Homo sapiens: one gene and its partners. The protein of the gene in region 3 interacts with the protein of the main gene of each other region in a pairwise test. Each region holds a gene or a part of one and is shown on either strand. Other genes may lie near its edges.

Evidence for each region.
Region 1: the proteins of SLC10A6 (region 3) and TPRG1 interact in binary tests that used the Homo sapiens proteins (3 or more experiments, as listed by UniProt).
Region 2: the proteins of SLC10A6 (region 3) and TMEM252 interact in binary tests that used the Homo sapiens proteins (3 or more experiments, as listed by UniProt).
Region 4: the proteins of SLC10A6 (region 3) and SLC41A1 interact in binary tests that used the Homo sapiens proteins (3 or more experiments, as listed by UniProt).
Region 5: the proteins of SLC10A6 (region 3) and FAXDC2 interact in binary tests that used the Homo sapiens proteins (3 or more experiments, as listed by UniProt).
Region 6: the proteins of SLC10A6 (region 3) and TMEM143 interact in binary tests that used the Homo sapiens proteins (3 or more experiments, as listed by UniProt).
Region 7: the proteins of SLC10A6 (region 3) and TMEM120B interact in binary tests that used the Homo sapiens proteins (3 or more experiments, as listed by UniProt).

What each region holds. Positions count from the first base shown.
Region 1 is NC_000003.12:189,314,971-189,318,470, forward strand, and holds part of TPRG1 (tumor protein p63-regulated gene 1 protein), read left to right. Parts: intron 1-522; coding exon of another isoform or gene 523-558; exon of another isoform or gene 559-723; intron 724-3,500.
Region 2 is NC_000009.12:68,538,084-68,542,021, reverse strand, and holds the start of TMEM252 (transmembrane protein 252), read left to right. Parts: upstream 1-1,138; 5' UTR 1,139-1,207; coding exon 1,208-1,485; intron 1,486-3,938.
Region 3 is NC_000004.12:86,839,385-86,842,884, reverse strand, and holds part of SLC10A6 (sodium-dependent organic anion transporter), read left to right. Parts: intron 1-3,500. UniProt on the Homo sapiens protein: Transports sulfoconjugated steroid hormones from the extracellular compartment into the cytosol in a sodium-dependent manner without hydrolysis.
Region 4 is NC_000001.11:205,803,199-205,806,698, reverse strand, and holds part of SLC41A1 (solute carrier family 41 member 1), read left to right. Parts: intron 1-3,500. UniProt on the Homo sapiens protein: Na(+)/Mg(2+) ion exchanger that acts as a predominant Mg(2+) efflux system at the plasma membrane.
Region 5 is NC_000005.10:154,819,604-154,823,103, reverse strand, and holds part of FAXDC2 (fatty acid hydroxylase domain-containing protein 2), read left to right. Parts: intron 1-526; coding exon 527-632; intron 633-1,677; coding exon 1,678-1,844; intron 1,845-2,631; coding exon 2,632-2,788; 3' UTR 2,789-3,500. UniProt on the Homo sapiens protein: Promotes megakaryocyte differentiation by enhancing ERK phosphorylation and up-regulating RUNX1 expression.
Region 6 is NC_000019.10:48,332,941-48,336,440, reverse strand, and holds part of TMEM143 (transmembrane protein 143), read left to right. Parts: intron 1-2,243; coding exon 2,244-2,433; intron 2,434-3,007; coding exon 3,008-3,222; 3' UTR 3,223-3,500.
Region 7 is NC_000012.12:121,775,252-121,778,751, reverse strand, and holds part of TMEM120B (transmembrane protein 120B), read right to left. Parts: intron 3,144-3,500; coding exon 3,030-3,143; 3' UTR 1-3,029. UniProt on the Homo sapiens protein: Necessary for efficient adipogenesis. Does not show ion channel activity.

The DNA of each region.
Region 1 (3,500 bases), on a different chromosome or scaffold from region 3:
ATAAATTAATGAGACATGGTGGCATGTACCAGTATTCCCATTCCAGTTACCTATAATCCCAGCTACTTGGAAGGCTAAGGCAGGAGGACTGCTTAAGCCCAGGAGTTCGAGTCTGCAGTGCAAGTCTGCAGTGAGCTGTGATTATACCATTGCATTCCAACCTAGATGACAGAGCAAGATTTTGTCTCTTTAAAAAAAAATGAGGACAGTTATTCAGAGGGATTAAGTGACTGAAATCATATAATAATAGTTCTATGTTATACCCAGTTTCCTAATATTCAAGGAAATGGGTATAAGCCTGAAAGAATTGTGTGTGTGTGTGTGTGTGTGTGTGTGTGTGTGTGTAAGGGGGGGTGAGAAAGAGAGAGACTGTGTGTACATTTGTATTAATTGATGTGATATGGTATAATATTGTATCTCAAAACCTGGCTCAATTATCCTCAATTATTTCATCCACTTTGTATTTGCAACTTATAGCCTTACCTTTTCTTTTTTAACCATCGCTTTGCTGGGTTCCTACAGTATGCAGAGACTACTGCTGGGAAGGATGAGTACTGAACCCAGAACTGATGAATAGCAGTGAACGCATTATGTGTGCCCTACAACCATCATGATCTACAGACCAACCATTTGTACTCTTTTCTTGTATTTCTATCCATCTTTTCAAGGGGATCATGTAAATGAACCAATGTTTTAGCAATTAAATTTAACTTTATACTCTTAGCCCTTTGTTTGCCTTTTACAACAATTCAACAAATATTCATTGAGTACTTACCTGGCAGTGACCATTACATGATGAGCAATATTCTGGATTACCAAGAAGAATAAAACTGATTTTGCCCTACAGATACTTACGGCGTAGGGGGAGGAGGCAGCAAAGACTTTCACAAATTATAATTTAAAGTACTAAGATTGTAAATAGGGGGAGCCCAAAAGTGGGAACAGATAAGTCCAAAAGTTAACAAGTCTGATGACATTTGATATGAAACTCAAGGTATGGGTGATTTAAGCACCAAAGAAGGTGGGAAAAGACATTTTAATTAGAGGAAACATGCTTAAAAGCTGCGAATTACAAAGGTATACAAAATGTTCTCCGATAAAGACTAATTCAGTTTAGCTAAGTTTAAAGTGCACTTGTGTGTGTGTGCACATATGTGCATATGTTCAGAGAGGAGGGTTGGGGGATGGGATAGGATGAGGATGGAAATTGCTATGGGTAGAAACCTCTCTTGTGCAAGAAAAAAGAAGCTACTGCCTCTTCTTATTTGTCTCTATGCACTTGAATTTATAGTCACAGGGGCTCTATGAGGATAATTCCAGGAAAAATGTGCAAAGATGATATATACAGTCTGTCCAGCAGTGTGACTTCTCAAGTGATTTCAAGTACTGGGTATTGGATGGGCGTGCCCTCTATGACAGGAGACTTGGAGACTTCCTTCCATACACAGGGAGGCTGAAACCTGTAGCCTGCAGGCTCAGAAAACCAGCTCAACTGAGGAATGTGGGCCTACAGGCATGAAACCTGGTCTCTTTACCCAGTGTAAACAGGAAGCCAGTGATGGTTGTAATAAGGAAAACTGAGACTCCAGGCAATGAACTGTTGGCAGACAGCACCTAAAGCAAACCTGTGGACCAGGCACTCGGCTGGTAAATAATTGGTGGAAAGTCAAGAATAATACGATGTCCCCCCTGTCCCCACCACGCACACTGCTGCTATACTTTATCCTAACCAACACACAGCCCCTGTGTAACTGGAGTTGTTAAAACCTGACCCTCTGTATTTGGGACTGAAATAAAAGAGAGAGCCAGAGGTGGGTGCATAAAAGCTTTTAGGGAAAAGTATGTGGCTGGTGGCATTCATATCAGATGACACAGCGTTCCTGTCACATAGATTTAGTTCAGGTGCTTGAAATGCTCAAGAGCCAGCTCGGGGACTTGGCCTTTTGTCTGCCTCTCCTTCAATGCACTGCTTGTCACCCTGCTTGTCTCTCTGTAACCATGCCCTCCCCTGGCTTTGAAGGGGCTCCTAGAAATGACTGGAAATGAAGTCCATCTGACTCCAATGAAATGCCAAATTCATTGAGTATGAAATAGTGCCAACTTTTACTTTCTAGCACTTTGATTTTGAGTCTACAGAGGATTCTTAAGGAAAGAAGTTTATGATGAAGCCAGAGGAAGCATTCAGTAATCCAACTGGACAAGATTTACTGATCTATGAAAAGGCATCCTGATAATCCAGACTTTGGATAATCCAGACTTTGTTGCAATAGAATTGTTGAGATGAATTATACTTTGATTTTTAAGAGATCATGGTTTGGTAATGATGATGAGGATGATGTCAGTGATGATTAAGCAGTTATTATTTATTGATTCCTGGCAACAAGCTTCCTTTATGGCCTTTGCAATATAACTCCAAATTTCAGGCTCATCTCATTCTGCTTTCCTAATCCTTTATATAATATGTGAGCACACAAGTGCATGTATGTGCACCCCTCCATTCACAGCGTGTATACAAACACTTTATTTCACTTAATCTTTACAACCACCTGATAAGTTTGATACTATTAATATTCTTATTTTATGGCAAAGGAACTATAAATTTCAGAGAGGTTGGATAACTTGCCCAAAGTCACACAGCTATGTGAGTATCATAGTTCCAACTTAAGACCCCTCTGCCTGATCCTATACTTCCTTTAGTTCAGTGGTTCTCAAGAGAGGGTGATTTTTCCCATGGGGGACATATGACAATGTCCCAGTGTCCCAGTGAGATATTATCGGTTGTCATATCAAATGTATACTTACAAAGGTATATAAAATGTTCTCTGATAAAGACTAATTCAGTTTAGCTAAGTTTAAAGTGCACTTGTATGTGTGTGCATATATCTGCATGTGTTCAGAGAGGAGGGTTGAGGCATGGGATAGGATGAGGATGGAAATTACGATGGGTAGAAACCTCTCTTGTGCAAGGAAAAAGGAGCTACTGCCTCTTCTTATTTGTCTCTACACACTTGAATTTATAGTCACAGGGTCTCTATGAGGATAATTCCAGGAAAAAATATGCAAGGATGATATATACAGTCTGTCCAGCAGCGTGACTTCTCAAGTGATTTCAAGTACTGGGTATTGGACGGGCGTGCCCTCTATTACAGGAGACTTCCTTCTATACACAGGGAGGTATCTGTCTGGTATCTGGTGGGAGGAGGATAGGGAGGCTGCTTAACATCCTAACATGCAGAAGACATTCTCTGCCATAGCAAAAGATTGTCTGGCCTAAAATAGCAATAGTCCCAAGGTGAAGAAACTTTGGTTTAGCTGTACAGACAGCCACATTTGTGACTCTACTTCATAGAAAACCAGATGAAATATTTGAGTGGAGGTATAGGTATAGGAAACACATAAGAGAAAAAAAGGTCAACTTTTCCCTTGAGTTTGTGGGAAGGCATTGTGGAAGATACAGGATTTAAGCTTGGTTTTGAGAGATGTGTTGGAGAGTCGGCACT
Region 2 (3,938 bases), on a different chromosome or scaffold from region 3:
TCTAATATCCGTGTCTCCCAGCCCTAACATGAAGGTAGAGCTAAGGAGATGGTGAGTGTGAGACTAAAGGTTATATGAGGGATTATTAGGGCACGCCACAAAAAACTGCTGCTCTCATTGGGAAAGTAAATGGAAAATAATGGTAATGGAGTAGTGGAGTGGAACAGCAGCAAAGAGGAACTGAAGATAAGCTATCCTGAGTAAAAGCAACCCAGGGTTCCTATGGGAAGGAGACTTTTGGCAGAGACATGCCACATTATCAAATAAAAAAGGGCAGAGCCAGGGCATAAAGCACGTCTGAAATAAGCTATCCACAATCAAAGACAGTCAAGCTAAAGAAAACAAATTCCAGCCAGGAAACAGAAGGCTGGTTCTGGAAAGATTTTTTGAGGCAATGCTACATAGAGCAGAGGTGTGGAGGAGAGGACAGGGAACATTTTTAGCAGCATCCTCTAAAACGAATTCTATTTCATATGTACTTTATGAAAGGGGGAAAGATTGCAGGAATTACAGGCCCAAAATCCCCCCAAATTCCCGAGGCTCTGTCTATTATAGTCCTTTTCTCCAGCACTCTCCTTTCCCTCCCACTCAGGCTCTTTCGATCTTGTCAACAGAGCAGGAACCACGAAGTTCACACTCTGAACTTCTGTCTTGGAATTATGCCAGTATCATAGTGTGGGGGCAATAAGTGGGGATTCATTGAGGGAGGCAAGACAAACATGTTAACAGCCTTGAAGAAATGCCTTTTTAGTACAGAAAAAGGGAGAAGGAATCAGGAAGGGATTTCTTACCAAACCTCAAAGAAGATCGTTCTTTAAAGAGTGCTAACTTCTCCAGCTTTTAGTGGGGAATTGCCCTCCATGGGGATTAAGAGACCAGCGCCTTTTAATCAAAGGAGGGCTGTACGTTCAAATAACTGGGAACAGCTGAGTGTCCCACCCAACTCTGAAGAACAAAACAGCTACACGAAGCCACTCCTGCCTGCAGTATACAATGCTATGTTTTTTGGCTAATTCTCCAAGGATATTACACTTACTTTCAATGGTTAATGAATAGCTTCTAAGTGCCTGTTTCATTTAGTTGTCCAAAGGCCAGTGGGTCCCAGAGCATATAAAGCTGCAAGCTGGCTAATGAGCTCATTCTCTTGGAGCAAGCAGGGAAGCAGAGGAGCAGCAGGGTCAGGGTGCTGGGTTCCTAAGGTGCAAGGATGCAGAACAGAACTGGCCTCATTCTCTGTGCTCTTGCCCTCCTGATGGGTTTCCTGATGGTCTGCCTGGGGGCCTTCTTCATTTCCTGGGGCTCCATATTCGACTGTCAGGGGAGCCTGATTGCGGCCTATTTGCTTCTGCCTCTGGGGTTTGTGATCCTTCTGAGTGGAATTTTCTGGAGCAACTATCGCCAGGTGACTGAAAGCAAAGGAGTGTTGAGGCACATGCTCCGACAACACCTTGCTCATGGGGCCCTGCCCGTGGCCACAGTAGACAGGTACGTGCTGACAGGCAGAGGGACCAAGAAGGGCTGAGATGGGCTGAGTTGTGTAAGATCTGAGTAATTTCTGATCCTACTATGGAGCGACTTACATGTCCCATGGGCTGTCTGTCTAGAACCAAAGCTTTATTGTCAGGGAATTACTCTGGGGTTGTTATTAGGAAGAGTGGCGCCATCTTTGGGGAAAACCATGACGCAGGGGCAACTCATCTCAGAGAAACCCTACCACCACCCCCAGTGAAAACCCACCTAAGCCAATTTAGAAACCCAGGCTCTTTTGTTATATCATGGCAGCTGTCATTAATTAGTGGCAGGTGATGGTTAGTTACTTCCCATAACCTGGCTATGAGGTTCTAAGGAAAGCAAGTCCCAGACCAAATTCTGCCACACAACAAATGAAGAAGCAGGCATAAAATGAGTCCTGGAATCTCTGTGAGCTCAGAAAAGTCCCAGTTTACTGTCCTTTTAGGTGTTGTGATCTCACCTTGCATAAAACATTCCTTCAGGGGAAGGTGATAATATTCTAGAGGCAAGATTCATTCTTTCTCGCCATCTCATACATTAGGATAGTTATCATCAAAAAACAAAACCAAACAGCTAGTGTTGGTGAGGATGTCAATAAATTGGAACGCTGTGCATTGCTGGTGGGAATGTTAAAATGGTGCAACCACTGTGGAAAACAGTGTGGAGACTCCTCTATACATTAAATATTGAATTACTGTTTGATCTGGCAATTCTACATTCTGAGTTTATACACAAAGGAACTGAAAGCAGGGATTCAAATGGATGTTTGTACACCAATGCTTGTAGCAACATTTATTCATAATAGCCCAAATGTCCATCAACAGGTGAGTAGATAAACAAAATGTGGTATATACATGCAATGGAATATTAGCCTTAAAAAGGAAGGAAATCCTGGCACATGCCACCACTTGGATGAAGTTGAAAACATTATGCTAAGTGAAACAAGTCAGTTACAAAGGGCAAATATTGTATAATTCCACTTACATGAGTACTTAGCGTAGTCAAATTCACAGACACAGAAAGTAGAACAGTGGTCCCAGGGGCTGGTGGAAGGAGAGACTGGGGACCTATTGTTTAATGAGTAGAGAGTTTTAAGGTGATGGTTGTAGAGCAATATGAGTGTATTTAGTGCCACTGAGCTATACACTTAAAAACAGTAAATTTTATGTCATATATATTTTACCACAAGAAAAAAAAGATTCAGTTAATCTTATAGTCAGTATCAGGCAACAAGAAACCTCCTAATTCTTGGCTAGCCACAGGACCATTTAGGGATAACACCCTAGGCATCATTCTCAAGATACAGGCTACAAGACTATAATTATTTTGCCCTCTTCGTGCAAGAGTAGAAAGTATCTAAAATATTTTAGCTACTCCATGTATCTTGAATATAAGTAATCTTACCCATGAGCATCCACTTTTGGCATCCTTTATGCTAATTAATAAGATAATAATTATGAAAACCAAAACTTATTTCCAATGTTATACTAACCAGCAGAGTTTCTGGGTTTGATTAAAAATTAAGAGAAATGAAGTGATTGTAGAAGATGCCTCTAGAGTGATGATTTCTTTTTGTATAAATGTTAGAGGACTACCTCTAGAGTGTGAATTTCTGATAAATGTAACTGATTGCCTTTAGGATATAGCTTAAATTGACTAACACTGCATAATATTACAGTATACTGAAATGTTTGAAAGTAAATTATGGACATCGTAACACCCCCATTTTACTGCCTCTTCTCGCTGCATGTAATAAGATGCTTATCCCACGCAGAATGGCTGGCAAGTCAGCCTGGGAAGTCACATTTCTCCAAAGCATTTGCACTCAAAATGGATACCCAGGTTGAGATATCAAAGCAAATGGGTCTCCGATGATGGAATTCAGGGGACTGGGAATATGGATGGCAGTTGAAGGAGGGTGGGGTTGGGAGAGGTAGCTGGGATTTGGGGCAGGCAGCAGTCATCCTGGAACCTTTCACATCACTCCAGGGAACATCTCACCTTTCTGTGTAAAATGCCTTTACACATGTGCCCCGTGACTCAGCCTTGGCTATTCTGAGCGAAGGCTGAGATTTATGCCTTATAGTAGACAGCTTCTTCAGCTACTGGCTTTGGGCCTGGTAACATTTGGAATGGAGTTGTGGCTACAAATGGCAGTCCCTGTTCTGTTGTGGTTACACACCATAAACACTCCCTGTAGGCACTGGAAGGATCACTCTATAAATACACAACTCAGCCAAGCTCACCGGTCTCTCTTCCTCCCCTCTCCCCTTCCCCCAAATTCATTCATGATGGAGAAGCCAGGAGGATTTAGCAATTAGAAATGCCAGGCAAGATGACCAATGAGTACATCAGCCCCCGAATGAATGGCTGCTTTAGCCTACTGGCATAGAAAGGGCTACAACTGAAATCTGTGTAAAGTTGTC
Region 3 (3,500 bases):
AAAAAAAAAAGAAAGAAAGAAAGAAAGAAAGAAAGAAAGAAAGAAAGAAAGAAAGAAAGAAAGAAAGAAAGAAAGAAAGAAAGAAAGAAAGAAAGAAAAGAGGTGTCCATTTATTGATGCAACTCAGGACAGCTCCCACTGTCTTGTCTTTTCTTTTCTTTTCTTTTCTTTTCTTTTTTTTTTTTTTGAGACAGGGTCTTAGACTCTGTCATCAGACTGGAGTGCAGTGGTACAATCATGGCTCACTGAAGTCTTGGCCTTCTGGGGTCAAGTGATCCTCTCACCTCAGCCTTCTGAGCAGCGCAGCTGGGACTATAGGCATGCGCCATCATACCCAGCTAATTTTTTATTTTTTATTACAGAGATGAGGTCTCACTATGTTGCCCAGGCTGGTCTTGAACTCCTGGGCTCAAGCAATCCTCCCACCTAGGGTTTCCAAAGTGCTGGGATTACAGGTGTGGGCCACTTACGCCTGGCCTCCCACTATCTTTGTTTGAGAACTTTTGATATATACAAGAGGTCCATTCTTCCGTAAGGATGTATTTATGTCCTCAGCTGCAGACAAAGGATTCTGACCACTGGTGGTGTTGGAGCCTGTGGAGCTCAGTGGCCAACTTTGACCTTTGAACTTTAAAGAAGTTCTTAGTCCTTCAGTAGAGAACCTGGAAATAGAACTTCAAATTGTTCAGGTCTATCTGACATGTCTTGGTGGAAAACTGAAGGTCCTTTGCATTTAAGGCTTTGGAGACAGAACGGAGACTGAATTCATGAGACTTCATGCAAGCTTCCATGTCTCTATGTACTTTAATTTCCTTATCTATACAATGAAAATAATACTCACACATAGAGTTATTATGTAGATGAAAAGAGAAAATGTATATAAAAGCATGAGACATAACACCTAGCACATAGTGCTCAATAAATACTCATTATTATTGGAAGGCAGCAGACAAGGGTAACATTTATATTGAGGGATGGAAAATCGGGCCTTACGCTCTATTCTAGGGTCAAATCTGTTGGTATGATCTTATAGCTCACTCCGTGTCCATCTGGTTAGCTGGATAATTTTTTATTTCTTTCAGTCGGAAAGCAAGTGTATACTTTCATAGTTTTGAGGGTCAGAGTTCCTGATTTTATGGGATTTTTGAAATTAAAACAATTTATAATAACTTAATCTCCAATTGCAAAATGTTATTGACACTGCATTTTAATGTAATGTGTATATATGTAATTTCCCTGCTTTAAGGGAGGGTTCAAGACTGACCTGTTTGTCTAGACTTGCTGAATATGTCTCATTATTTTCTGTAATAGTTTGGAGATGATGATGCTATTCTTCTCAATGCAAGTGGAATCTTGTTATACTGAAGTTAGATTTTGCCAAAAATTTTCCTATACATGAAAAGTCAAGAGACTTACTTAGCCACATCCTCTGTTTATGCTACATTGGAATTTCATGGCTAAAAATACAAGGCGTGACTTTCCACTGTACTCACAGGCATTCACTGTGTGCTTTTCCACCTTTGCTGGTATTTGTAACAGTTGGCAGAGCACCAGGATAACCTCTTGCCATCCTTGACCAATATCATGATCACCATGGGCTTGAAAATTGTATAAACATGGAAGCAATCACATAGGTAATCAAGGATATAGAATCAGTCGGATATAAATCTCACTTTGCTTCCCATAATCATGAGTCTTACCTTTCTGCTGTTTGAGCCAAAGCCATTCAGTAGAGAAATGTTGTGCTGGTTCTCCAGAAGTTCAAGAGTAAAGTGATATAATATGGAATTCCATTCAGGACTTAGTAATATGGAGAGTCAAGGAATGTAGCACTATCATAGACTAAGAATTTGGAAAAAACTTTCTAAACAGCCTCTTTGTGGATACAGAGGTTTGAGAGCTGTGGCAAACTGCTTTTTTTCTTTTAAATTGCCTACTAGTCAGGAAGAAATCTTTGCTTAAAGTAAGCATTCTTAATAGGATAAAATAATTTTGGGTTTCATATGGAATAAAATATAAGCAAGAACTGCTAAGACAAGTTTGAAAAGGGAAATTTATGTGGAGGTATTTGCCCTACCATATATGAGAACACTGTAATTAGTCTAGTATTTGTTCAGGAAAAAAGAAAGTTATTTATCAATGAGCTAGAAGAGAATTTCCAGAAAATATTTTGTGTACACTTGGGCATTTAATAAATGATAAAGGTGACACTTCAGTATAGTGGAAAATGGTTTATTTTAGTAGATTATATTGACACACTTGCATCTCAATATATTAATAGAAAAAATGGATTAGTCTCATACCTGTTACCATGCAAAATATAAATTTTAAGTCAGTTGAAAATATAAGCATAAAAGTAAAAAGTAGAAGACAATATTTGAATGCCCTCGGATCAGGGTAGGTCTTTAAGATAAGAAACTCAGAAGCCATTAAAAAAACAGCTCTGACTATATAAATGTTAATTATGGCAAGTCATAAGCAAAGTCAAAGATATACACCATGCTTGGAAAAAATACTTGTATTATTCATGGTAATATGAGCCCTAATTTTAAAAGAACTCCTACAAGTTGAGAAGAAGTCTGACAAGCAAGATTGTTTAGAGAGGAGGACACAGAAGAAGCCACTTGACATGAAAGAAAGCACAACCTGATAGAATCCAGAGTGTCGGCTGGGTGCAGTGGCTCACGCCTGTAATCCCAACACTTTGGGAGGCCAAGGTGGGTGGATCACCTGAGGTCCGGAGTTCGAGACCAGCTTGGCCAACATGGTAAAACCCATCTCTACTAAAAATTAAAAAAAAAAAAAAAATTAGCCTGGTGTGGTGGCGGGTACCTGTAATCCCACCTATTCCAGAGGCTGGGGCAGAGAGAATTGCTTGAACCTGGGAGGCGGAGCTTGCAGTGAGTCAAGATCAGGCCACTGCACTCCAGACTGGGTGACAGAGTGAGCTCCAGCTAAAAAAAAAAAATAAAAAAAAAAAATAAGAGTGTAACAAGAGTGAGATCAATTTTTCAATGCTGGCATGACAATTAGAAGGGACTGATCACATCCGGAGTAGGCAAGATTGTGAAATGTAGCAATCTTTTTGGAAAGTAGTCTGAAAGTATATATTAAAACAAAAAACACAGACTTTTACATAGCAATTCCACCTTGGGAATTCACAGAAAGAAAAGAATCATTTCAAGTGAAGTATGTATGAGAGTGTTTATTATAACATTATTTATAATGGCAAAAAACTAAAAGCAACTGACCTATGGTTAATGAAGTGATTGAAGAAATTATGGCATATTTAGATTATGGCATATTTCGCAGTTCTTTAAAAGAATAAGTTTAAATGTATTGGTCTGAGAGGATGTCTGTGATAGATGAAGTGGGAAAAAAAGCAAACAAGTTGCAGAGTAAGGTATATTATAAGGTTCCTTTTTTTATTTTTAGAGACAGGGCCTCCTTCTGTCCCCAAAGCTGGAGTGTTGTGGTGTGAGCATAGCTCACTGCAGCCT
Region 4 (3,500 bases), on a different chromosome or scaffold from region 3:
CTCTAACTTCCCAACCATGGCTGAAAGTTCCTGCAGCATCTGGAAGGGAAGCAGGCTGGGGCCTGGTGTTGGCTTCTGAAGGGGGTTGGGATATGGGAGCCTCCTCACTGCAGGAGCCTTGTGCCCATCTGCCCAGTTTGGTCCTAGGCTGCTCCGGATGTCTCACTCCCTTTATCTGTCAGCCTTTGTGAGGGATGGGGTGACAGGAAGTAGTGTGCCCATCTGCACTTTAATTCCCAGCTAGGTTAAGACAGGTCCTTATTTTAACTCACTACTCACCTGCTAAGGATCTTGAACAAAGTAGATCCTGCTGTGTATACAGAAGTCTACAACGATGAAAGTGCATGGCAAGCGTGGCCTTGGGGAAGTAGAGTGGGAAGGAAGTATTCCTCCTGTGCCTGGCCTGCTCCTGTGGCCGCAGCATCCCTGGGCGGGACACTCTTATCTGCTTCACTTGACCACCCCTTCTGCTTTTCCCATCTCTGTCCCCTGCCTGCTGTCAGGGACCCATTTGCTTTGCTCCTGCTTTGTCCTGCACCGTATATCCAGGTGTTGCCCTAAAGCCCTTTCCTGGACACCTAGAGGATGCCTTTTGGAAAAGCCTCAGACAGGTGAAGCCTGGGGTTACTGTAATCTCATCTGACCCAGTCCTTACCCTAAAAGATCAGCTCCAGCCCAGCTTCTCCCACAGGAGCCCAGATTCTCCCCAGCCTGGAGCCTAAAGCTTGTATCTGGGAATTTAAGTCTTCTTAATGTCTTGATTCCTGGCTCTGACTTTCTTCCCTGCTGCTACCCTCCTGAGGTGGCTCAGGCCAGAACCCTTGAAGGCAGGTCAGGGTCAGTGTATGAGCTTGGATTGGAGTAGGTGAAGGATGGAAGAGGCGCATTGGAAGGGCAAGGAAGAGGTACTGGCAGGACCACTGAGGATCGAGACTTAAGGTGATTGCTGTGCCTCAGGATTCATTTTGGCTATGGGGGAGGCAGTCTATTCCCTCACCTGCAGAATACCAGGGATCCATGAGCCCCTCACACCAAGGTTAGAGAAGGAAAGAGATGAGGAGCTGCATTTCTGAGAAGTAGTTAAAATCTAGATGCTCCCCTCACCTCCAAGCAGGGCAGCACTTCCTGGAACATGCCCTTTTTCATCCCCATCAGAGCAGGAAGGCGTGGGTGGCTGCTTGGCAGACGGGTGTGACTTCAGGGGCAGATACTCCTAGCCTGGATGAACAGGATGGGGCTGAATTTGGCCAAAGGAGGAAGAAGAGCTACTCACTGTCTGCCCCTGCCCATCCTGTCTACTCCTAACCTTAAGGCCACCTTGATTCCTGGGCTGGCTCCACATCTCCAGCCTCCAGCATCTCTTTCCAGAGTCCTATGCATGCCCATGTGTCAGAGGCTTTCTGCCTGAGCTGCAGCTTTGAGAGGGTTTGTGGGTGAAGAAAGTATGTGTGTAGGAATTGGCTTCTCTGACCCAAGTGCCAACTCGGGGCTTTGCTGGCCTGGGGTCAGGTCGTTTGAGGTTCCAGGCTATATTCTGTAAGAGTCGGGAAGACTTTTGCATAGGGGCTGTTACTGTGACTGCTCCCTCTCCTTGCCTGTCTGTCTCTTATCCCACTGCTCCTAACACTCCGTACTTTGTAGATCCTCCTGTAGCTATAAGGAGAGGGTGCATTGTGCTGGGAGGTAGAGAGATTTGGGGTGCTTATGGTAGCAACCAGAGGAACTTAGCTGAGCTTTATACATTTTTCTTAAATAATAATAAAAGCAAGCAATATTCATTACAAACAGCTCAGAAAACATTGCTTGCATACATGTGGAGTCTTCTTGTGGGCTTTTTCTTTCTATGAGTACATGTACATTACATACACCTACCTGTAGAAGTCAGATTTTCATGGAGCTGGCAGCTTGGAAGCAGGGTGGAGCTGGTGTTTTGGGGTGAAGATGAGCTCTGAGGCTGTGCTCTGAGAGGAGCTTTGAAAGCCCGCAAGGGAGGGGAGAAGAGGGGGATTTTTCCCCTCTCTGGAGCTGGTTTGGGAGGAAGCAGGAGGCGAAGCAGAGCAAGGCCAGACTGCAGGGAGCTGGAGCCTCAGTGGTATGTACCAGCCGTGTCCAAGAGTAACAGTCCCCAAGTTGCTCCAGGGCAGATGGGGCTCACTGGGGCTGCCTTCTCTCTGGGGGGTCTTAGGGTGGGAAGGGATTCACTTCCCTTCAGTGTTTGGAGAGGGCTGGCTCATCCTTTGGCTGCCTGGAAGCCCAGTAACTGTTGTTGAGATGGGGGGCAGTCTCTTCCCCATTGTTAGTCCCTACGGTGGGGCTTCCCTAAGGAGAGTCCCAGGTCTTGGCCAGACCAGAAGCTCAGGCAAGCGTATGCTCCAGCCCCAGTGAAATGAGTCCTTCCCCAGGATCCTGTGAGGCCTCCCACCCCATTCACACAGGGAGAGCTCCGACAGGAAAAGAGAGGTTCTTGCCTTATAGGGCCACCCAGCGCCCAGCCTCTCCTGGTCTCAAGCCCTAGCCCCACCCCCTCTGATAGCCTTGCTTATCTTTTTGGTTATTGTGGTAAAAAATGTGTAACATAAAATTTACCATCTTAACCCTTTTTTAAGTGTGCTGTTCAATAGTACTACGTATATTCACCTCATTGTACAACAGATCTCCAGAACTCCTCATCTTCCCCAGCTGAAGCTCTGTACCTATTAAACACTCACTCTTTTCCCTGCTCCCCCAGCGCCTTGCTTCCACCATTCTTCTTTCCGCCTCTATGAATTTGACTACTTAGGCTGGGCTCGGTGCCTCATACCTGTAGTCCCCACACTTTGGGAGGTCGAGGCGAGAGGATCCTTTGAGCCCAGGAGTTCGAGACCAGCCTGGGCAATATAGTGAAACCCCTGTCTCTACAAAAAATACAAAAATTAGCCAGGTGTGGTGGTGCATGCCTCTAGTCCCAACTACCCGAGAGACTGAGATGGGAGGATGGCTGGAGCCCGAAGCCATGATTGCACCACTGCACTCCAGCCTGGGCCACAGAGTGAGACCGTGTCTCAAGAAAAAAAAAAAAAAAAAAAAGAATTTGACTACTTTGGATACCTCAGATAAGTGTTTTTTATCTGAGTGTTTTATCATACAGTGTTTTTTATGACTAGAGTAATGTCCTCAAGGTTCATCCATGTTGTGGCATATGACAGGATTTCCTTCCTTTTTAAGGCTGAGAAATATTCCATGGTATATATGTACCACACTTTGCATATTTTGTTTATCCATTCATTCCTTGATGGACATTTGGGTTGCTTCCACCTCTTGGTTATTACATATAGTGCTACTATGAACATGGGCATATTAATATATCTTCAAGACCTTGCTTTCTATTCTTTTGGATAAATATCCAGAAGTGGGATTGCTGGATCATGTGGTAGTTTTATTTTTAATTTTTTGAGGAACCACCGTACTGTTTTTCATAGCAGCTGCACCATTTTATAGTCCCACCAAGAGTGCACAAGGGT
Region 5 (3,500 bases), on a different chromosome or scaffold from region 3:
GGAGGTCAAGGCTATAGTGAGCTGTGATCACACCACTGCACTCCAGCCTGGGCGAAAGAGCAAGACCTTGTCTCAAAGAAAAAAAATAAAAGGGAACAGGCTTCTGAATTGAGTGTAGGCCAGTAAAATACTCCCTGGCCTCAAGTGTCCCATTAAATAGTTAACAGGGAGACCACTAGTTGTCTCATAACTGACAACTTGGGACAACTGAGGAATGAATGTCCAAAAGAGAAAAGGCCTCTCTGATTGTGTGGGAGCCAGGGCAGTTTCCCATTCATTTCCTTATTCAGTCCTTTCTGGGCAGCATCCCATTTTACAGCGAATACAACTGGCATAGAGAAGCAAAGCAACCCACTCCCAAACTATGCAGTATAAGGGCTGGGGTTGAAATTTGAAGGCAGGTCTTGGTGTTGTTAACTTTGCTCCATGGATGTAACCCCTAGTTCCTATTTTTGGTTTCTCATGGTCTGGTCGGGGAGGGAGAAAGAGGAATCAGCAGGTTATTAACTATTAACTATTTCCCCAGGCTCCTTCACCACCCAACATTCTACAAGAAAATCCACAAGAAACACCATGAGTGGACAGCTCCCATTGGCGTGATCTCTCTCTATGCCCACCCTATAGAGCATGCAGTGAGTAGAGCTCTATGCTCCCCAGAGCAAAGGGCAGATGGCCCCAACCACCTTCCTGAAGGTCTCCTGCAGAGAACTTAGACCACACCGGCCCTTTTTCTTCCCATTTAAAAATAGCTACCATTTATTGTCAGCCTTCCATATGCCAGGCTATGTTAAGTGCTAACACAGTTGTCTCATTTAATCATCCCAACAACTTTCTTTTTTTCTTTTTGAGACAGGGTCTTGCTCTGTCACCCAGGTTGGAGTGCAGTGGTGTGATCATAGCTCACTGCAGCCTCCAACCCCTGGGCTCATGTGATCCTCTAGCTTCAGTCTTCCAAATAGCTGAGACCACACGTGTGCACTTCCAAATAGCTGAGACCACACGTGTGCACCACCAAATCTGGAGTCTCACTGTGTCATCTTGGCTGGAGTGCAATGGCATGATCTCGGCTCACTGCAATCTCCCGCCTCCCGGGTTCAAGCCATTCTCCTGTCTCAGCCTCCTGAGTAGCTGGGATTACAGGCGTGTGCCACCACGCCTGGCTGATTTTTGTATTTTTAGTAGGACAGGTTTTCACCATGTTGGTCAGGCTGGTCTCAAACTCCTGACCTCGTGATCTACCCGCCTTGGCCTCCCAAAGTGTTGGGATTATAGGAGTGAGCCATCGCACCTGGCCACATCTGGCTAATTTTTAAATTTTTTTGTAGAGTCGGGATCCTGCTATTTTGCCCAGACTGGCTGGAACCCCTGGCCTCAAGCAATCCTCCCACCTCTGTCTCCCAAATTGCTGGGATTACAGGCATGAATCACCACACCTGGCTCCTCCAACAACCTTTTTAATCTTAATTTTGCTAACAAGAAAGTTGAGGCTCAAACTGCGTAATTTGTCCCAAGTTACAAAGGTGAATGCCTTCAACAAATCAAAGTCCCGAAACTCTCACCTTCTCCAGATCTGGGTCAAGGAAGTTTGCCTCTGGTACCACCTTGGGACTAAGTGTATACCCAACTAAGTCCCTTCATCTCCCTGGACCCTGCCTTCAATCATCCCTCCTCTTGCAGGTCTCCAACATGCTACCGGTGATAGTGGGCCCATTAGTAATGGGCTCCCACTTGTCCTCCATCACCATGTGGTTTTCCTTGGCCCTCATCATCACCACCATCTCCCACTGTGGCTACCACCTTCCCTTCCTGCCTTCGCCTGAATTCCACGACTACCACCATCTCAAGTAAGGACCTTCTCCCCACAATGGGTCCCTAGGCAACAACCATCACCCTCCCTCCTTAAGCTTCTGATAGCAGGCACTGGTATCTCAGTTTACATGTGAGTGCTAGTTGGGGAAGAGGTCTGATGGCTGGGAAAATAACCACACTGGGATGACCTTACTCTTTTCCTTCTGAAATTGGGTCCTCCTCCAACTGGGGGTTTTAAACCTTTATTTGGACTCTGGGCCCTTTGAATAAGCTCTGGACATTCTCTTTAGAAAAGTACATATATGCATAAAACTCCTGCAGGCAATCACAAGGAAGTCATGTATCTCTGAAAGCCCCAGACTTTTTCAAGTGTAGTCTACAAACCTCCTATACCAGAATCACCTGAGATGCTTGTTTAAAATATAGGCTCTTGAATTCCACTCCAAATATGCTGAACTAAGGTATCTGGGGGAGCAGGGCCTGGAAACCTGCATTTTAGTTAAGTGTTCCAGGGGATTCTGATGCTGGTGATCTCATACCTGAAGAAGCCTAGTTCTGCTAGAGATTCTCAGACTGTGGGCATCAATCACACAGCAAGCTTTTCAAAGGAGGACTCCAGATACGGCAAATTGCAGGTTTGGAGTGGCCCCCGGGAGATGCATTGGTAGCAACTCCCCAGCTTATTCTGATGCAGATGGTCAGGATGGTGGTGACAGGTGTGGGGTAGGAGGGCTGAGAAATGTGTGAGGCTGGCACAAATGAAATGGGATCTGCACGGAAGCCTCCAGCATGGGCACTGCAGTGCCGTCCTCTCTCTTCTAGGTTCAACCAGTGCTATGGGGTGCTGGGTGTGCTGGACCACCTCCATGGGACTGACACCATGTTCAAGCAGACCAAGGCCTACGAGAGACATGTCCTCCTGCTGGGCTTCACCCCGCTCTCTGAGAGCATCCCAGACTCCCCAAAGAGGATGGAGTGAGAGACAGCCTAAGTGTCATCCTGGCTGTCCCTCAGCCATGGGATGCAGACACGGCTTCCTGATTGCACCTAACAATTTGCCTCCTTCGGCCACACGCCCTAATGATGGCACCACCAGGGTAGAGGGAAGGTCGGCTTCCCGGAAAAGCAGGGCCAAGGATGAGGCTTTCTTCAAACTACTGCCCTTGATGTCCCTCAATGGGATCAGGAGTTAGCTTAAGAAAAAGGAAAACACAGCTCCCCAGACTGGAGGCTGGTCAGAGGGAGGAGACCCCTGGTCCTCTGCTGTGGAAGGAGAGGGGTTCAGCCCCAGATAACTCCTTTGTGGCCTGGGCAGGATGCAGAGAATGACAAGGCTGAAAGGAGGGGGACTGGAGGCTGCCTGGCTCCAGCGAGAGCTCCTTCTGGGACCAGAGGGTGGGACGGCCAGGTATCACTTTGCCCCTTCCTGCCCCAAAAGGCTTTCACATACCCGACTCAGGCCAGAGCCAAGACACCCTGGCAAATCATTATAGGTCTCAATTCATGACATACCAGATGCCAGTCGCCACTTCACCCAACACACACACAAACATACACACACCAAACACTCTGAGTGAGTGGTAAAGGCCCCGTTTTAACTCTGGCCCACCGCAAACAAAAGGTTTCCCTCTGTGGGGGAGAAAAAGAAATCCAGGAGCTCCTCCCTGGATTAAAACCAACGAGGTGCAGAC
Region 6 (3,500 bases), on a different chromosome or scaffold from region 3:
CGACTCTCCTGCCTCAGCCTCCCAAGTAGCTGGGATTACAGGTGCCTGTCACCATACCTGACTAATTTTTTTTTTTTGTATTTTTAGTAGAGACAAGGTTTCACCATGTTGGCCAGGCTGGTTTCGAACTCCTGACCTCAAGTGATCTGCCCGTCTCGGCCTCCCAAAGTGCTAGAATTACAGGCATGAACCACCGTGCCAGGTCTAATTTTTGTATTTTTAGTAGAGATGGGGTTTCACCATGTTGCCCAGGTTGGTCTCGAACTCCTAACCTCAAGTGATCTGCCCTCCTCATCCTCCCAAAGTGCAGGGATTACAGGTGTCAGCCACTGCATCTGGCCTGGGCACAGTTTTTCAGTGGGAGCCCAGAGGGCACTGATGCCCTCATTTCTCCTTACCAATATCAAGGATGAGAAGAGGGGTCCAAGCAAAGAGACTAACGGTGGGGAAGTGGGCAGCCAGTAGACAGCTGGGCCCAGACCTGTTCTTCCCCCCAACATCCTTCCCCTCTCCTCTTCTCTTTACAATTTAACTTTTTTCTTTTTTTGAGACAGGGTCTCACTCTGTTGCCCAGCCTGGAGTGCAGTGGTATGATCATGGCTCACTGTAGCCTCAGCCTCCTGGGTTCAGGTGATTCTCCTGCTTCAGCCTCATGAGTAGCTGGGACTACAGGTGCTCACCATCACACCCAGCTAATTATTATTATTATTATTTTTTGAGGCAGAGTTTCATTCTTGTTGCCCAGGCTGGAGTGCAATGGCATGATCTCGGCTCACTGCAACCTCTGCTTCCCAGGTTCAAGCGATTCTCCTGCCTCAGCCTCCCGGGTAGCTGGGATTACAGGCATGAGCCACCATGCCCGGCTAATTTTGTATTTTTAGTAGAGACGGGTTTCTCCATGTTGGTCAGGCTGGTCTCGAACTTCCAACCTCAGGTGATTCACCTGCCTTGGCCTCCCAAAGTGCTGGGATTACAGGCGTGAGCCACTGAGCCCAGCCTGCTATTGTTTTTTAATTTTAATTTTTTGTAGAGATGAAGCTTTTGCCATGTTGCCCAAGCTGGTCTTGAACTCCTGGGCTCAGGTGATCCACCCACCTTGGCCTCTCAGCGTTGGGATTACAGGCCTGAGCCACTGCACTTGGCCTACAGTTTAATATTTTAAACCATTTTTTCCTTCATTATAGAAAAGTTCAAACAAACACAGAAATAGGATAGTATGATAAACTCCACTAGCCAGCACCTAGCATCAACAATTAGCAATAGTTAATCAGATTTCCCCTGAAGACCTCCACTGTCCTACTATTGGATGATTTTGAAGTAAATCCTACCTAGACTTATTTGGAAATACTTTATTATGTCTCTAAAACATAAGGATGTATTGTAACAAAATCTTTCAAAGCTAAAACTCCTATCATCTGCAAACCTTTGGGTAAATCCATTAATACATGGCTCAGATGAGCAAACCAGTGCAGTGGTTGCTGAAAACTGTAGGCCAGATGGGGCTGGTGGTCTTGGAGCCACTGGAATGAGGGCACGTGTGTTAAAAATACAGATCCCCAGCCGGTGCCTTGGGTCACGCCTGTAACCCCAGCACTATGGGAGGCTGAGGAGCGAGGATCACTCCAGGCTGGGAGTTTGAGACCAGCCTGGTCAACACAGGGAGAATCCCGTCTCTACAAAAAATATCGGGCTTGGTGGCGCACACCTGTAGTCCCAGCTACTTAGGAGGCCAAGGCGGGAGGATCGCTTGAGCCCGGGAGTTCAAAGCTTCAGTGCGTTATGAGTTTGCCTGTGAATAGCCACTGAACTCCAGACTGGGCTACAGGGCGAGACCCTGTCGAAAAAAAAAAAAAAAGGAAAGAAAAGAAAGAAAGGAAGGAAGGAAGAAAAAGAAAGAAAGAAAAGAAAAGAAAGAAAGAGAAAGAAAGAAAAGAAAGAAAGAACGAAAGAAAGAAAGAAAAAGAAAGAAAGAAAGAAAGAAAGAAAGAAAGAAAGAAAGAAAGAAAGAAAGAAAGAAAGAAAGAGAGAAAAAGAAAGAAAAAGAAAAGACAGACCCCAAAAATCCCCAAATAGATCCCTCGACTGAGCTCTGGGGACCCGTACTGAAGAGGTCTGGGTAGGACCTCCCCGCCTCCTCAGGGGAGTAAGCGGCGTGGGCCGTGCCAGCGGGGGTGACCCCGGGGGCTGTGTATGGGTGGGGGCGCACCCCGAACTGAGCCCACGGGGCGCTGTCCCGCCTGCAGATGTTCGGGCAGCGGCGCAGCGCGCAGGCGTTGGAGCTGGCGCACATGCTGTACTATCGCAGTACGTCCAACAACTCGGAGCTGCTCAGCGCCCTGGCCCTGCGCGCGCAGGACGAGCACACCAAGGAGGCGCTGCTGGCTCACAGCTTCCTGGCCCGGCGGCCAGGGGGCACTCAAGGCTCGCCCGAAGGTAGGACGTGGCCCTGGGACCCTGCCCCCAGGGGCCACACCCCCGCGAGGCCCCGCCCCAGCGAGATGCGTCCCCACCCCCAGTTCCCACGGGTGAACCTGACGGGTTTGCGAAGAGACCCCGGCCCTCAGCAGACAGGACCTCCGAATCCAGACTCCGATCTTGGTGCCTGATGTGACAGCCCTTTCTTAACCTCAGCCTGGTTGGGAGTCTTGGCTCCATGGCACGGCCCCCTCCTGTCATTCTTTCCTCTACCTGAGCTGACACTCTCCCTACAAGAGATCCTGCGCGCTCCCTGTGTGGGCTCCAGGTGGTCCCCTTGCCTACAGGAGCCCCCACCTTCCCTGCCCAAGAGCCCCTGACTGGTCCCCAGACGAAAGCCCCAGAGCTGGGCCTTCTGGCCCTCTCGACCCTCCTGGGCCTTGTTCCGCTCCCCTCCAAGCCTCAAGATCACTCCTAGGCTTCTCCCAAACCCAGGCCCTTCCTGTTCTTTGCCCTACGCCCCTCCTTGCTGCTCCCTCGAATCTTCCCCGATCTCAGTGTGACCTCAGAACACCTGCCTCTCCCCTTGCAGAGACCTCCAGGTGGCTCCGGTCGGAGGTGGAGAACTGGCTCCTAGCCAAGTCAGGCTGTGAGGTGACCTTCAACGGAACTCGGGCCCTGGCGCATCTGCAGGCCCTGACCCCCAGCATGGGATTGTACCCACCCCCGGGTTTCCCCAAACTAGACCCAGTGGCTCCGATCACTTCCGAGCCCCCGCAAGCCACGCCCAGCAGTAACATCTCCTGAGTAGAACCTACCTCCCTGCCCAGTCAGCAGGCTAGGAACTAAGCCCCGCCTCCTTCACGACAGGCTGTCAATTACGGTTATTATACTTTTCACTCCAACTTCCAATAACTGACAGGTGATTATTTTTGCTGCACTGTGTGCTTAAGCAAAGCAGCCAATCAAAGCAGCTAGCAGTTGTTAAGTCTTCCCCGCCCCTTCGATGAACAGCCAATCAAAGCGATTTAGCTCTGCTTCTGTTCCATTTCTTAGTCCCACCCTCACCATAAACATCCAAGTGT
Region 7 (3,500 bases), on a different chromosome or scaffold from region 3:
AGCAAGTTTTCTGTGGACTGTTCCCCCCACTGTGGTAGGACAGGACTGGCCCACTTAGTCCTCAAGCTCCCAACCTGCTGTCCCTCAAGCCCCGCTTCTACCAGCCTGTGGAGTTCAGGAGGCGAGACATCCTGGCCTCCTTTGAGAACTGATGGGATCTACCCCCTGTCCACGCGGGACAGTTTCTCAGAACTGGTTCATAGACCACCTGTGTCACCAACAGCCAGATACCTAATCCCTGAGCCTCCTTTGGGAAGGTCTGGGGCCGAGGGTCTGGGAATTTTTTTTTTTTTTTTTTTTTGGGACAGAGTCTCATTCTGTCACTCAGGCTAGAGTGCAGTGGCATGATCTTGGCTCACTGCAAGCTCCACCTCCTGGGTTCAAGCGATTCTCTTGCCTCAGCCTCCTGAGTAGCTGGGACTACATGCGCACACCACCACGTCCGGCTAATTTTTGTATTTTTAGTAGAGACAGGGTTTCACCATGTTGGCCAGGCTGGTCTTGAACTCCTGACCTCGTGATCCACCCGCCTTAGCCTCCCAAAGTGCTGGGATTACAGGCGTGAGCCACCGTGCCCGGCCCAGGACTTTTAAAACAAGCATCCCAGGGGATTCCGGTGCCTACCAGAAGTCGCAAGCTGCTTGGCTCTGGAGGGCGCCTAGGAGTCGGTGTCGCCTAAGATGGGATAATGGCTTCAGGCAACTCCTAGCCTTCCCCATATCTCCTGCCTCAGCCCCCCTGGCCCAGTGCTGGGGCGTCAGCTAAACCTGAGCTTCCAAGAAGTCAGGTTGCCAAAGGAAGGAGCCTTCTGAGACCCTCCCCAACCCACCCAGGTTCCCAAGGCCCTGCCGTACCCTGGGGAATCAACCAAGGAGTTCTTGTTCTCGAAGAACCCCAGGCCTCATGATGGTCTACGGTAGAGGTCCAACAACTACAGCCTGTGGGCCACATCTGGCCACAGCCTGATTTGTAAATAAAGTTTTATTGGAACACAGCAACACCCATTCCTTTCTGCATTGCCTTGTGCTCTGGGGCTGCAGGTGAAGAGTAGCTGCCACAAACCACCTGGCCCATAAAGCTCAAAATAGTTGCCATCTGGCCCTTTACAGACAGCTAGCTGACTCCTAATCTAGGGCAAACGCAGGTGCCTAAAAAGGACCAGAAAGGAGACCAGAATGAAGGGCAGGGGGGTGGCAGGGCCTGTGGCAACTGGAGAGTAGGCGTCCTGTGCCACGGGAATGTTGCCAGGTCCGTTTTTCTAGGGAAAGCAGAAATCTGGATTTTTATGTGGAATCTCACTGTAGGGGTGGGGAAATCTCATTTTAAAAATGTAATCAGGCCAGGCACAGTGGCTCACACCTGTAATCCCAGCGCTTTGGGAGGCCAAGATAGGAGGATGAGTTGAGCCCATGAGTTGGAGACCAGCCTGGGCAACATAGTGAGACCCCATCTCTACTAAAAAGTATTAAAAAGTAGCAGGGTGACCAGGCATGGTGGCTCACACCTGTAATCCCAGCACTTTGGGAGGCTGAGGCAGGCAGATCACAAGGTCAAGAGATCGAGACTATCCTGGCAAACATGGTGAAACCCTGTCTCTACTAAAAATACAAAACAAAACAAAACAAAACAAAAGCCAGGCATGGTGGCACGCGCCTGTAGTCCCAGTTACTCGGGAGGCTGAGGCAGGAGAATCACTTGAACCTGGGAGGCAGAGGTTGCAGTGAGCTGAGATTGTGTCACTGCACTCCAGCCTGGGTAACAGATCGAGACTCCCATCTCAAAAAAAAAAAAAAAAAAGGAGCAGGGCATGGTGGTGTGTGATTGTGGTCCCAGCTACTCCAGAGGCTGAGGTGGGAGGATCCCTTGAGCCCTGGAGGCGGAGGCTACAGTGACCTATGATGCCACTGCACTCCCGCCTAGGCAACAGACCCTGTCTCAAAAAAAAAAAAAGTAATTAAAAATTTTAAAATTCCTTGAGGAGGGCTAAACAAGGCATGCCTGTGGGCACTGCTGTGAGGTCTGGCCTAGGGATTTGTAGGGCCACAGTTAGGGGGAGCTGAGGCCCATATATGAATGGTGGGGCAGAGCACTCAGCCAAACCTGGTGGCCTCTCTGCCTCCCGTCGAATGCAGAATCTCACCCAAGCGATGCCCAGTGGCTCTGACCCCGCCTCAGGGTGCGGCCCCTGGGGGTGAGCCTGCCAGGCACCCCCACCTCCCTCCCACAACATCCAGAAGCTCTGGGAAGGAGGGGGGAGGTGGTTCCCCTCCACAGGGGCCAAGGGTCTTGGTCCCACTCTCCAAGTACCTGCCACGACACTGCAGGAAGGTGGGCTGCAGGATGGGGGGGTCAGGGAACCCCGAAGCACAGACGGGAACGTCCTTGTCCCCTTGGACGACCCAGGGCCCGGGGCGCCCTCTGGTGGCGAATCTTCTCACAGCCTGACTCAGGATGCCCCCAGCGCTCCAGGGGCAAGAAGAGCACGAGGCAGACGCGGTGGGTCTCTGAGAACTTAAAATAACCCTCACCACGTGGCGGGGTGGGCGAGGAGGGGGCTCACAGCAGAAGCAGAGTGGCCCCGGGGTGGGGGCGCCACAGGACACTGAGGGTTCACACCACCCCAGCCTGGGCCTGGTAAGTAGCAGGTCAGCATAAATCCAACCCCGCGAGGCACATCCAAACCCCACCCAGAGGGGTTCAAATGACAGGAGTGGGAACAGAGGGGCTCCCTGAGGCTTCAGGCCCCATCCCCAGGAAGACTGGCCCGGCCTCAGCCACCTTCAAGCACAGGAGTGAGGCCTCGGGTTCCAGGGACGATGGGGGACCCAGCATTAAATATGTCATAAATAGGTGGGCGGACACTGTGCGGACAGGCGGGGCTCACATTCCTCTAGACCACTGGGGTCCACTGGGGGACCAGGGCCTGGGCCCTCTCCCAGCGATGCCACGGGCCTGAGAGGGCTGCTGGGAAGGAGCCCGGGAGCCCCCTGCAGTCTGAAGTCCGGGCCGAGGGCACAGGAGCCCGAGGCTCACGGCTGCTTTGTCTTGCCTCTGTTCTTCTGGAGCTTGGCATGCACGACTTTGAGCGTGGTCAGGAAGTTGCCGAGGAAGAGGATGAGGAAGGTGAACGCCAGTACGAACACCTGGGGGAGTCCAGAGAGGAGGGCGAGGCTGGGGCATCTGCCCTGCTGAACCCCTGCCCCCAGCACCCCAGAATCTCCAGCACAGCTGCCCCCAAACTCCCAAACTGCAGGGTTTTGCCATCGAAGGCAGAGATTCAGGAGACCTGGGGGAAGGGTGAGGCCTCAGGCTTGGGCAGGGCCTGGGAAGGGCTCGATGGGGCGAACCTCCTTGGGATCCACAGATTGGGAGAGGCTCCACCCCTAGCCCTTCCAGAAGCCTCCCGCCAAGCAGGCCCCCCACAACACCCCACACCTGCCAGCCCAGCCCGCCCCAGGAACCTCCCCACAGCACACCACACACACGCACACACCCCACCC